Homo sapiens: one gene and its partners. The protein of the gene in region 3 purifies or fractionates together with the protein of the main gene of each other region. This does not show direct contact. Each region holds a gene or a part of one and is shown on either strand. Other genes may lie near its edges. The genes, in order: PNPLA6, EPDR1 and PCDHGC5.

Region 1 (3,649 bases), on a different chromosome or scaffold from region 3:
TCTTCTAGATATTGTATTCTCTATCTGTAATTTCTTTCCTTTTCTTTTCTTTTTTTTTTTCTTTCTTTTTTTTTTTTTGAGATGGAGTTTTGCTCTGGTTGCCCAGGCTGGAGTGCAATGGCGTAGGCTCGGCTCACTGCAACCTCTGCCTCCCCGGTTCAAGCGATTCTCCTGCCTCAGCCGTCCAAGTAGCTGGGATTACAGGCACCCACCACCACACCCGACTAATTTTTGTACTTTTAGTAGAGATGAGTTTCACCACGTTGGCCAGGCTGGTCTCGAACCCCTGACCTCAAGTGATTCACCTGCCTCAGCCTCACAAAGTGCTGAGATTACAGGCGTGACCCACCGCCCCAGGCCTCTGTAATTTCTTAATGATGTCTTTTCTGCCACTACCGCCCTGCCCCCGCCTTGGGGGATCTAGGGCTCAGGGCCAATTGGGTAGAACCCCTGGAGGGAAAAGGGGTATCTAGGTTGCTGGGCTGGCCCAGAATCTGGCCACCACAATGTAGAAACTCAGGCCCTCATTTCAGCAGGCCTCCAACCCCACCGCACGCCCCATTCTGTTCTAGCTCACTGAAGCCACAGGCTGAAACAGGGGGCTACATCTCCCAGCAAGCTGTAACTTCAGAAGGCGAGGTGCCCAGAGTCCTAAACAACAATCCACAGACTATTTTCCATCATGGTATGGGGAGTTTTGTTTGTTTGCTGTTTTATTTTTTCTGAAACAGGTTCTAGCTCTGTCATCCCGGCTGGAGTACAGTGGCACGATCACGGCTCACTGCAGCCTCGACCTCCGGGCTCAAGCAATCAATCCTCCCGCCTCAGCCTCCTGAGTGGCTGAGACTACAGGCATGTGTCACCAAGCCCAGCTAATGTTTGAAATTTTTGTAGAGACGGGGGTCCTACTATGTTGCCCAGGCTGGTTTCAAACTCAATCTCCTGGGCTCAAGCGATCCTCCTGCCTCAGCCTCCCAAAGTGCTGAGATTACAGGCATGAGCCACCATGACGGCCCTGCCATCATATTCTGATCTAGGACTCCCTTTCTCTCAACGTCCAGGCCGTGGACTTCCCCAGCAAGCCCTGACTCCCGGGCAGACTACGCCAAGTCCACCGCCTAAGACTCCCTCCCCGGCACCACTGATTTACTTTCGAGCCCATTAACTAGCACGCCAGGGGTCGAGGACTTCGTTTCCCAGCATGCTCAGGAACACGAACTCCATTCCCCAGAATGCTCTGCACCTGGGTCCTACTTAGGGTTTGAAACCCTCAGGGGCACGATTTCTTCGCGGAACTCCATTTCCCAGCATCCCTCAGGAAAGAAGGCTTCCCTCCCAGCATGCTCTGGACGCCGGACTACATCTCCCAGCACGCTCTGGGCCGGCCGGCTCTCACCTGGGAAGGGTCCTTGCAGCTGCTGCAAATTCCCTAGAATTTTCTGGCTCAGTAGGTGGATAAGGCGGGTCACGACCTGGGGGCGTTGGAGGCCGGCATTTCAGTGAGACCTGGGAAGCGGCTGTCCAGGTCCCACCTCTCCCTCCTATGCCGGGGCTCCTGGGTGCCCGTTACCTGGGTCCCACCCCCGAGAGCCCCCGCCCTCACTCTCTCGCTTCGGCCCCTCCCTCGACCCCGCCCCTCTGTAAGCCCCGCCCACACACTAGGCCCGGCCCCCACCCCCCCGGAGTCCCGCCTCCGCCTCTCTGCCCCGCCCACAACAGGCCGCACCTGCGGGTACCGGCGTTTGATGTGACCCAAGGTGCCCTCGGGAAGCTTGGCCAGCTCCGTGTCGCGCACCGCGTGCACCGTCGTGGCTCGCGGCTGCCGGGTCAGTGCCTCCACCTGGGGGGCCGCGTGCATGATTGGGGCTGCTTGGGTGGGGAATGAGGAGGCCGAAGATGGGTGGAAAGGGGGCTGTACTGCCCCATCTAGGGCTCCCCTGCAATGGGGGTGTAGGGAAGCAAGCCTCGCTCGCTACCCATTAGAGCTCTGGGGAGAGGGAGAGGACAGGGATCCACGACAGGCGGAATCCCCTTTTTCCAACGAAATGAGGTCTGGGCGGGGAGTGGACTGGGTGACCTCAGAGGTCGGGAGCTGCATTCACCACTCCCTGGATTACCCGGGATGATGTGTGTGAGTTGTCGAGGGACTGGCCTGGAAAAGGCCAGAGGTCAGTGGGTGGGGGTCGCGCTCACCACGCCGATGAGGTCGCCGCGGCCGTACTCGCCCACCAGCTCCTTCTTGCCACTGCCTCGCTGGATCACGCTACGCAGCCGCCCATTGAGCACGATGTAAGTGCAGTCGGAGCGGTCGCCCTGCCTGAGTGGGCGTGGAGGTCAGCAAGGTCTGACCACCCCCAGGTCCCCACCCCTAGGCCGGGCCTGAGCAGCGCGGTGGGAGCTGCACCTGTACAGCGCGCGTCCCGCCTCCACTGCAGTCCAGTCGATGGCGAAGTCCATCTGGCGCACGAAGGGCGACATCCTGGCTGCCACCGTGTGCGCCGCACTCAGCACCACACTGGGCTGTGCGCGCATGATCCTGCAGGAACAGACTTGGGATGAAAGAGGAAGGCCTCAAAACCGTCCTACACCGGCGCTGGGAGGCCAGATCTGGGGGCTCCCTTCTGCTCTTCCAGGAGTGAGGTTGAGGGATGGGGTTCTGGCCACTCCCACGGGTTGGGGTCCTCCGAGTGCCACCCACACTCCAACTTCGGGCTGTCATACTCATAGAAGTCGGACTTGGAGATCCGCAGGAAGGTGCAGTCGCGTTGGGCTCGCAGTGTGAAGATGAGAGGTTCGCCAGTGAGCACCGCCAGCTGCCCCACCAGTTCCCCGGGCTGCGCTACGAACAGGCACACGTCCTCCGCCTTGTCGATCATGCGCTGGTACACGTGCAGGCAGCCCCAGAGCACGAAGTGCAGGCTCACGTCCTGTGCGGGCAGGGGATGTGATGAACACAGAACCCGGACAGCGTGGACCCCAGCTCAGGTCAACATGCCCCCACAGGAAAAAATTAAAGAAGAAAGGAAGGGTTAAGAAAAATATGAAGGCGCAGGGCGCGGTGGCTCACGGCTGTAATCCCAGCGCTTTGGGAGGCCAGGCAGGGGGGATCACTTGAGGCCAGGAGTTCGGCACCAGCCTGGCCAACGTGGCGAAACCTGTCTCTACTAAAATAAAAAAATTAGCTGGGCGTCGTGGCACATGTCTGTAATTCCAGCTACTCAGGAAGCTGAGGCAAGAGAATTGCCTGAACCTGGAAGGCTGAGGTTGCAGTGAGCTGAGATCATGCCATTGCACTCCAGCCTGGGCGACAGAGTGAGACACTGTCTTTAAAAAAAAAAAGAAGAAGAAGGCCAGGCGCGGTGGCTCACGCCTGTAATCCCAGAACTTTGGGAGGCCGAGGCAGGCGGATCAAGAGGTCAGGAGATCGAGACCATCCTGGCTAATACAGTGAAACCCCGTCTCTACTGAAAATACAAAAAATTAGCCGGGTGTGGTGGCGGGCGCCTGTAGTCCCAGCTACTTGGGAGGCTGAGGCAGGAGAATGGCGTGAAACCGGGAGGCGGAGCTTGCAATGAGCCAAGATCGCGCCACTGCACTCCAGCGTGGGCGACAGAGCGAGACTCCGTCTCAAAAAAAAAAAAAGAAAAAA
Region 2 (3,649 bases), on a different chromosome or scaffold from region 3:
TCTTTTCAATATACTAAGTGGAACCTAAATAAATACTTGTCCTGTGCAAAAGGAACTGTGTTCTGATGTCCGAGAAGTGGATTCCCAAGCTTCATTTCCTAACTCCTTAAGGAGAGTTGAGACCTCAGAAGGGTGAGATCTCTGGGGTCCAAGGGTAAGCCAGGCCGTGCCTGAAGCTGGGCTAGGATGAGAATTTCTATTCAAAAGGACAGGGTGTGTGACAAGGGACAGGTGGAGGGCTTGACTGTGAGAAGAAGAACTCCCACACCTACAGGAAACACAATCCATGCCAAGATACAGCACCTGATGTGGCATTTCCAATGGATATGAAGTCTGGGGCAGATTCTCTTCCCCCATCCTTCACTCCCAAGAGTGCCTGCTGGTACTCAGATACTCCTCATAAGTTATATGTTACCTATTGCTGACAATGCTGCGTCAGGCAGAGCTGTGCCCTTGGCCCTGCACCACCGGCTTCCCATCTGCCACTGTCTTCCCTGGTGGCTTCTGAGATGCTCTGGAGCAGCGTCTTCCCTGAGAGAGCTGGGGCTGTGACTCTGGTGCCTCTTCCAAGGTGAGCTTTTGGCTGTCACTCATCGGCAGGGCCCACATTCTAGAACTCTACCAGAAGATCTAACTTTAAGCCACAACAAAAGCAGCCTTCTGTGAGCGGGCAGGAGTCATCCAAGGCATGTATATCCTTTTCCTCCAGGAGAAGTTGCCTTCTTTAGGGGAGCCATCATCCCAAGAGTTTCTCCTTTCTTTGGGGGGACTGAGGGTAACTTAGGCACCCTGCTAAGGATCTGATTCCTCTTCAGATGGCCTCCCGACTCAAAAAGGCACTGCTTCTGAGAAACTGTGGGTGCTTTAGAAATAAATCTCAAATGCCCACATTGGGTGAAATTCCCCAAAATTGAAATTGAGGCACAAGAGAGACACTGAAGACAGTGTTTGATGAGAGGGCAGTGGGGGAGTGGCTCATGGGCGAAAGGAGTTTGGGGCATCCACTCTCTGGAGGTGGTGGTGTGCCCTCCACTTCAACCCTACTGGAAAACTTTTCAAAACACTGCAGTGTAATTCGATGTCAAAAATCATTCTTAACAGAAAAGAGGTATAACGTAACATATAAATGAAAAACCATGAAACCATTACATAAATCTATCATTTTATTGTCTAAGAAATTTAATTATAAGGAAAAAAGGAAAGAAAATACATATCTATTATTTAGGTATCCTTCTACAATGAATGTATATTATCAGTTATTCATTTCCCTCATTCACTGATTCAAAAAAAAATAAAAATTAGTCAGGCCCTGCTCTTAGCAGTTAGAAAATGGAGCTTGGGAATCGCCTTCTCCGACATCAGAACACAGCTCTTTTCATATGGGACAAGTATTCGTTTAGGTCCCACATAGTATGTTGAAAAGAATGTAAAGTGTTCTGAGGAGTTAGAGACACAGCAACAACCATACAAAACCCCTGGCCTTACGGAGCCTTATTGTGCATGAGGGAAGGTGGGGGAGATGAAGGAACAAACTTTAACGTTAAACACTCTGCCAGATAGTCATAAGTGCCTTGGATATATTAATATAAAGCAGTGAGGGGGCACTGAGAATGTTGAGCAGAGAAACAGTTCAATTTGGGAGTAAGTCATGCAGCTTCTTAGGAAAAAGTCTTTCTAGGCAGAGGGAATGACAGATTCAAGTGCCAATGGGGTCAGCGTGCTGAGGCCAGGTCCACAATGAGTGAGCTGGTGACAGAGATAAGGTAGGGAAAAGGCTGGGGAGCAGATCCTGAGCCAAGAAGTGGCATGACGTATTTTCAAGAGAACCCCTGGGGTTTCTATGTGGAGAACAGACTAAAGGGAGCAAGGTCCGAAGTGGGGACAACTGTTAGGAGGCTATCATAAACATCCAGCCGAGACATAATAAAAGTTTGGGCCAGAATAACAGTAGAGGTATGGTCAGATTCAGTATATATCAAAATTAGGGTATAGGTAGGAACATAAAGAGATGAGAGCCTGAGCCCTGGGAGAGTCCACTATTAGCAGTCCAGAGAAGAGCAGAAAGAGCAAAAAGGCTTGAGGAGAGGAAATAAGGTGGGAGAAGGAAAACCAGAAGACTAGCATGTTGAAAGCCAAGTGAAGACAGTGCATCAAGATTGGGGAATTAATCTACAATAAGATGAGGACTGATCAAAGATTGGTTGATTAGTAATGTAGAGCTTCTTGCTTTTGACCAGAGTATTTTCAATAGAATGGTGACAAAAGTGATTGGAGGGTGTTCAAGAGAGCATGGGAGTACAAAAATTGTAGTTAGCATGAGATTTGCTTTAAATAGAAGAGGAGAATGAGATTTCAGCTGGTAAGATCAAGAGAAGTTTTTTTTTTTTATTTAAAGATGGGTAAAATAAAAGAAAATGTTAAGGGGGAAAATAGAAATTTTTTACTGGAATTGGTGAAATCTAAGACTATCATATTTATTCCAGGAAAAACAAACCACTAATTGGTGGAATATTTTCAGATCTTTGGGCACTTTGCCCCTGACCACCATCCTCAAGGTCAGAATCAGGAAGAAACAGCTCAAGGTTATTGGAGAAAGTAAAGATGTTTTCAAAGCAGTATAGTGACCACCTCTGGCTTCCATTCGTAAATTTGTCTTACATTCCATCAGCCTCCTTACTCTCCTGGGCTTATCTTCTTTGGATCTTTTTTCCCCAGTGCCTGCTTCTCCCTCCCCATCTCAGCATTAATTGTCTGAAATCCAGGGTCTATAGACACACTGAATTAAGTCCCTTAAATCAAACTTTGTGTGCTTCCAAGAAAATCTGTTTCTTGAAGAAAAACTCAAATATTGCGAAACTCAAGTATTGCAAATCAGTATGGTTTATTCTTTGAGGATCAGGAGGCCACAAGCAGTCAAGACTTCCTCAGCTCACAAAAGAATATGCTATCTCCAGCCATCTGAGACCAAAATGATGGAGTAAAGGTCAAAGGAGAAGTCATGCTCTTAATATTCACAAAGTCGTGATTTCTTAAAATGAAAATCCAATCCATGCAAGACAAGATTCATGATCAAATAGATTTATTGAGCACTTTATATTAGTCTGCCTCCCCCAGTCACACAGAAACACCCTCTGAGGATTTGTAATGATGACATACTGAGAATCCAAAAGCAATACAAACATATGTTAAGAACATAATTTCATCTACTCCTTTCTCTTGAACAATTTAGACTAAAGCCACTAGGTAGGACCAAGGAAGATAGGCTTCTACATGGGCTGGCCTGGAGCGCAGAGCCCATGTGTGAAGGAGACAGCGTAATGATACATGACTGGTTACCTACTGCAATTGAATAGTAAGCCAGTTTTCTCACTGGCTGAGAAGGGAGTAGCAAAAATGAAAGGAAAAAAAAAACTAGAATGAACCATGTAGTGTTGGATTAGAATGAAGGCATCAGTTTAAACACCTGTATGGATTAGAACTGGAGGTTCAGAAATAAATATAGATGTAAATGTGTATATATGTATGAGTGTGTGTGGGGAGGGATGTGTGTATTCAAACTTAACACCCCTTGCTTTGTCCATTGAGAGGACCTGGTAGCAGTGCCACCTGATAGCACTGAGCATGACCAGAGCACAGGTTCTAACTTCCA
Region 3 (3,749 bases):
GTGAAGGGTCACCATTGTCCCTCACCAGGACCACCACCTGCTGGGTGTCAGAGTCATCCTCCAGTAAGGCCCGGGCTGTGCGCACCTCACCAGTGTGTGTAGACACGAGGAACAGTCCTGGGGCTGTGGACTGTGGCAACAGTGAGTAGGAGAGCCACGCATTGTGGCCTGCATCAGCATCCACGGCTGTCACCTTGGTGACCAAGGAGCCAGGAGGAGCAGAGCGAGGGAGACGCTGGGGGGCTGAGTGTTCCCAGTCTGGCCGTGGGTGCAGCACAGCTGGGGCATTATCATTCTCGTCTAGGACAAACACATGCAGAGATGTGTTGGCATGCAATGGGGGAGAGCCGGAGTCTCGAACCCCCACCACAATCTGCAGCATCTGCAGCAATTCATAGTCAAAGGTACGCTGGGCAAAGATCCGTCCATCCTCTGGGTTGACATACACAAAGGAGGAGGCTGGGGCTCCCTGAACCTGATTTCCTACAATGGAGTAGGTGAGGCGGGCATTATCCCCAGTGTCTGGATCTGAGGCAGCCACAGTGCAAAGAAGGGAGCCCGGAGGCCGGTTTTCTAGGATGTAAGCAGTGTAAAGCTGCTGGTTGAAGCGGGGTGCATTGTCATTGACATCTGAAATGTTGAGCCTGATGGTGAGATGTTTGTGTAGGGAAGGTGAACCAGCATCGCTGGCCAGCAGCTCGATGATATAGTGGGATGTGGCCTCCCGGTCCAAAGGCTGGCTGGTTAGCAGCGAGTAGTGGTTCTCAGAAGGCTTAATCTGAAATGGCAGGTCCGGAGAGATATCAAGGCTCACTTCACCATTTCTACCTGAGTCCCGGTCTCGCACATTAAACAACCCCACTACTGTGCCCACTGGTGTGCTCTCTAGGACAGGGTTGGCCAAAGAGGCCAATAGCACCTCTGGGGCATTGTCATTGACATCCCCCACATCCACTTGAATCACACAGTGGCCCTCCATGGCAGGCTGTCCCTGGTCACGGGCTCTTGCATGAATTTCATAGAAACGTGACTCCTCAAAGTCTATGGGACCCAACACATGGATTGCCCCACTGCTAGGGTCTAGGCCAAAGAGGTTCCGCACTGCCTCAGATGTGTGGTCTCCAAAAGAATAGTCTAGTTGGCCGTTGGTGCCCTCGTCTGGATCAGTGGCATTGAGGCGGAGCAGCAGAGTACCAATGGGTGCATTCTCTGGGATTCCCACACGTAGAACTGAGGATTGGAAGGTTGGAGCATTATCATTGATGTCCAGCACGATGACAGAGATAAGGGTGGTCCCTGAGCGGGCTGGGGTCCCCCCATCCACAGCAGTAAGCACCAGCTGATGTCTTGCCTGGGCTTCACGATCCAGCTGCTGCTCTAGCACCAGCTCTGGGAATGGCTTCCCATCTTTTAGGGTCTTCACATTCAGAGAGAAGTGGCTGTTGGGGCTTAGAGTGTAAAAGCTCACAGTATTGGTGCCCACATCCGGATCCTGGGCACTGTCCAGTGGGAATCGTGCCCCAGATGCTGCTGATTCTGAGATGCGCATCTCTCGCTCAGGGGTGGCAAAGCTAGGAGAGTTGTCATTGAGATCCAGGATCTCTACCTCTACACGGATTAGCTCCAGGGGGTGTTCAGTCACCACCTGCACTGGCAGCAGGCAGCTGGTGCTGGCTCCACATAGGCTTTCTCGGTCAATCTTTTGATTCACTGCCAGGGCACCACTCATCAAGCTCAGGGAAAAATAGCGCCCATTCTCCTCAGAGCCCAATTGCAGCCGCCGGCTCAACAGATCTGTCATCTTTAAGCCCAGATCCTGAGCAACATTCCCCACCAGCGTCCCCGGCTCAGACTCCTCCACCACTGAGTAACGAAGCTGCCCAGACACCCAGCCCCAGCAGCACAAGGACAACATGCACAGCACTTGCCATTTCCCAGCGAGCTGTGGGAGTGTCTTGGGCCCCATGACCCAGAAGTCCCTTTGTGGAGAGTAAGTCTGTGCTGTCCTGTCTCCAAGGTAGACCCAGGGCTTGGAATGCAGCAGCTGAAGTCTCTTATGTCTCCTTCCAGCCTCTTAAAAACTGCTCGGAGGTTTGCCTGCTTGCAGCAGTTCTTAGTCACCGAGTGGCGGGGGTGGGCAGGGGGGAGGGGAGCTGAATTTGAGTGGAGCTGGGGAGCTGGAGGAGGAGAGGCGGGCTGGAAGAGCAGATCTCCCACCTCAGCTCTGAGTCTGATTGGCCAAAAAGTCTGTGTGCTCTCAACCAATTATGGAGTTTCCTCAATCCTGGAAACCTTGGGAACACAGGCTGCAAATCTGTGTCACAGAAGCTTCCTACCTCCCCACTCACTTCGTGCTGCAGGTTGATTCAGCCCCCTTGGCAGCAAAGTTTGACAGCTCAGATGGTACTCAACAGGGAAGACAAAGTGATACAAAACTCCTCAGCGTTCTGTCCCAGCAACTTCCTGCATGACTTCAGAAGCTTCCACCACTTTGCTTGAACCAGCAAAATCTTGTCCTTCTGGGAGAGGCAAAGCCCATGTATTCCCCCACCCTCCCCCATCCTGCTGAATGCTGCTAAGGTGAGAGAAAAGATTAGTAAGAACCTTGTAAAGTCTTGCCCTGACTCTCCAGCAATGCTTTGCGGAAATCTCAATGTCAGCTGACATGGGACTTAGCTTTTCTGACACCCCAGACCCCAAATGTGGAATGAGTGTTACAGTTTTTGGGTAGGGGAACATTTCTGGGGCTGAATCAGGTCACCCAGGAGGGTGGTCAGAGGCCAAGCATGGATGGCTTGGCTTCTAGGTTTCATGGTTTCACCAAATTCAGGAGAACTCAACTTAAAGATGCACAGGGTGGCTGTTTCTATGAATCAGCCAACTGTAAACCAGTTTTCTGACATAAGTGATTTCACTTACTGTTTTTTCCAAAGGTGATGACCAACCCGCCCCAACCTTCCAATTTACCGCATCTAGTTCAAATCCCCAGTAGGGACTTGATATGAGTCCTAAGACCCAGACCAAAAGATCTATGCCACCACTCTGATGCGTGCCTCTCTATTCCTTTAGTTCTCTCCTCTTTCTGCTGTCTCTATGTTTCAAATAGAGAGGTCCCTTCACAGTGTACTAGATACTGGGAGACAAAGATTTTATTTCCCCTCAATCCCTTGGGAAATGGTAACCTAGAGTTAAGGTACTTCAGAATCTGATCCCCTCTTTCAGGAAGAGTAGAGAAAACAGCCACCTTTGTCCAAGTGACTGCCTGGTGCACTGTACCCTGTGCACTGTAGCCTCCTGTGCTCCCACATTCCATCATCATGCTTCCACAACAGCCTGGCTCTTGATCACCAATTACTTTCATTTCTTACTCAGATATAGGCATGACCCGCCCCCAATGCTAAACTGTGACAACTCTGGTTAATTCACGAAACAGTTACAAAGCACAGCGTCTACCACATAGTTACCTCTTACAAAAATGGTGACATCACTATGGGCACTTACTGAGAGGCCAGTACTCTCTAGGACATGGCCTAGCCATATGCCTGGATCAGAATAACCCTCAAGCATTTGTTGAGCCTGCAAAGGTCTCACCTCTAGCCCATAGAGAAGATCAGAGGGTGGGCAGCTTGGGCGAACAGGCTCCCCTGCCATAGGTGCACTGGGTGACTTCACCATCATGAAGCTATCACTCCGAGTGGGTGCAGAAGCCAAGGGTGTACAGCCATGAGAGTGGCCTCCCACATCAACAA

What was found.
Region 1: the proteins of PCDHGC5 (region 3) and PNPLA6 purify together in Homo sapiens (affinity purification with mass spectrometry; one large-scale study listed by BioGRID and IntAct). This does not show direct contact.
Region 2: the proteins of PCDHGC5 (region 3) and EPDR1 purify together in Homo sapiens (affinity purification with mass spectrometry; one large-scale study listed by BioGRID and IntAct). This does not show direct contact.

The regions. Positions count from the first base shown.
Region 1 is NC_000019.10:7,549,185-7,552,833, reverse strand, and holds part of PNPLA6 (patatin-like phospholipase domain-containing protein 6), read right to left. Parts: intron 2,928-3,649; coding exon 2,722-2,927; intron 2,537-2,721; coding exon 2,405-2,536; intron 2,318-2,404; coding exon 2,194-2,317; intron 1,841-2,193; coding exon 1,727-1,840; intron 1,473-1,726; coding exon 1,397-1,472; intron 1-1,396. UniProt on the Homo sapiens protein: Phospholipase B that deacylates intracellular phosphatidylcholine (PtdCho), generating glycerophosphocholine (GroPtdCho). This deacylation occurs at both sn-2 and sn-1 positions of PtdCho.
Region 2 is NC_000007.14:37,927,138-37,930,786, reverse strand, and holds part of EPDR1 (mammalian ependymin-related protein 1 isoform 1 precursor), read right to left. Parts: intron 1-3,649. UniProt on the Homo sapiens protein: Binds anionic lipids and gangliosides at acidic pH.
Region 3 is NC_000005.10:141,487,458-141,491,206, reverse strand, and holds the start of PCDHGC5 (protocadherin gamma-C5 isoform 1 precursor), read right to left. Parts: upstream 2,127-3,749; 5' UTR 1,967-2,126; coding exon 1-1,966. Other genes in the region: PCDHGC4 (protocadherin gamma-C4 isoform 1 precursor), read right to left, coding at 3,592-3,749. UniProt on the Homo sapiens protein: Potential calcium-dependent cell-adhesion protein. May be involved in the establishment and maintenance of specific neuronal connections in the brain.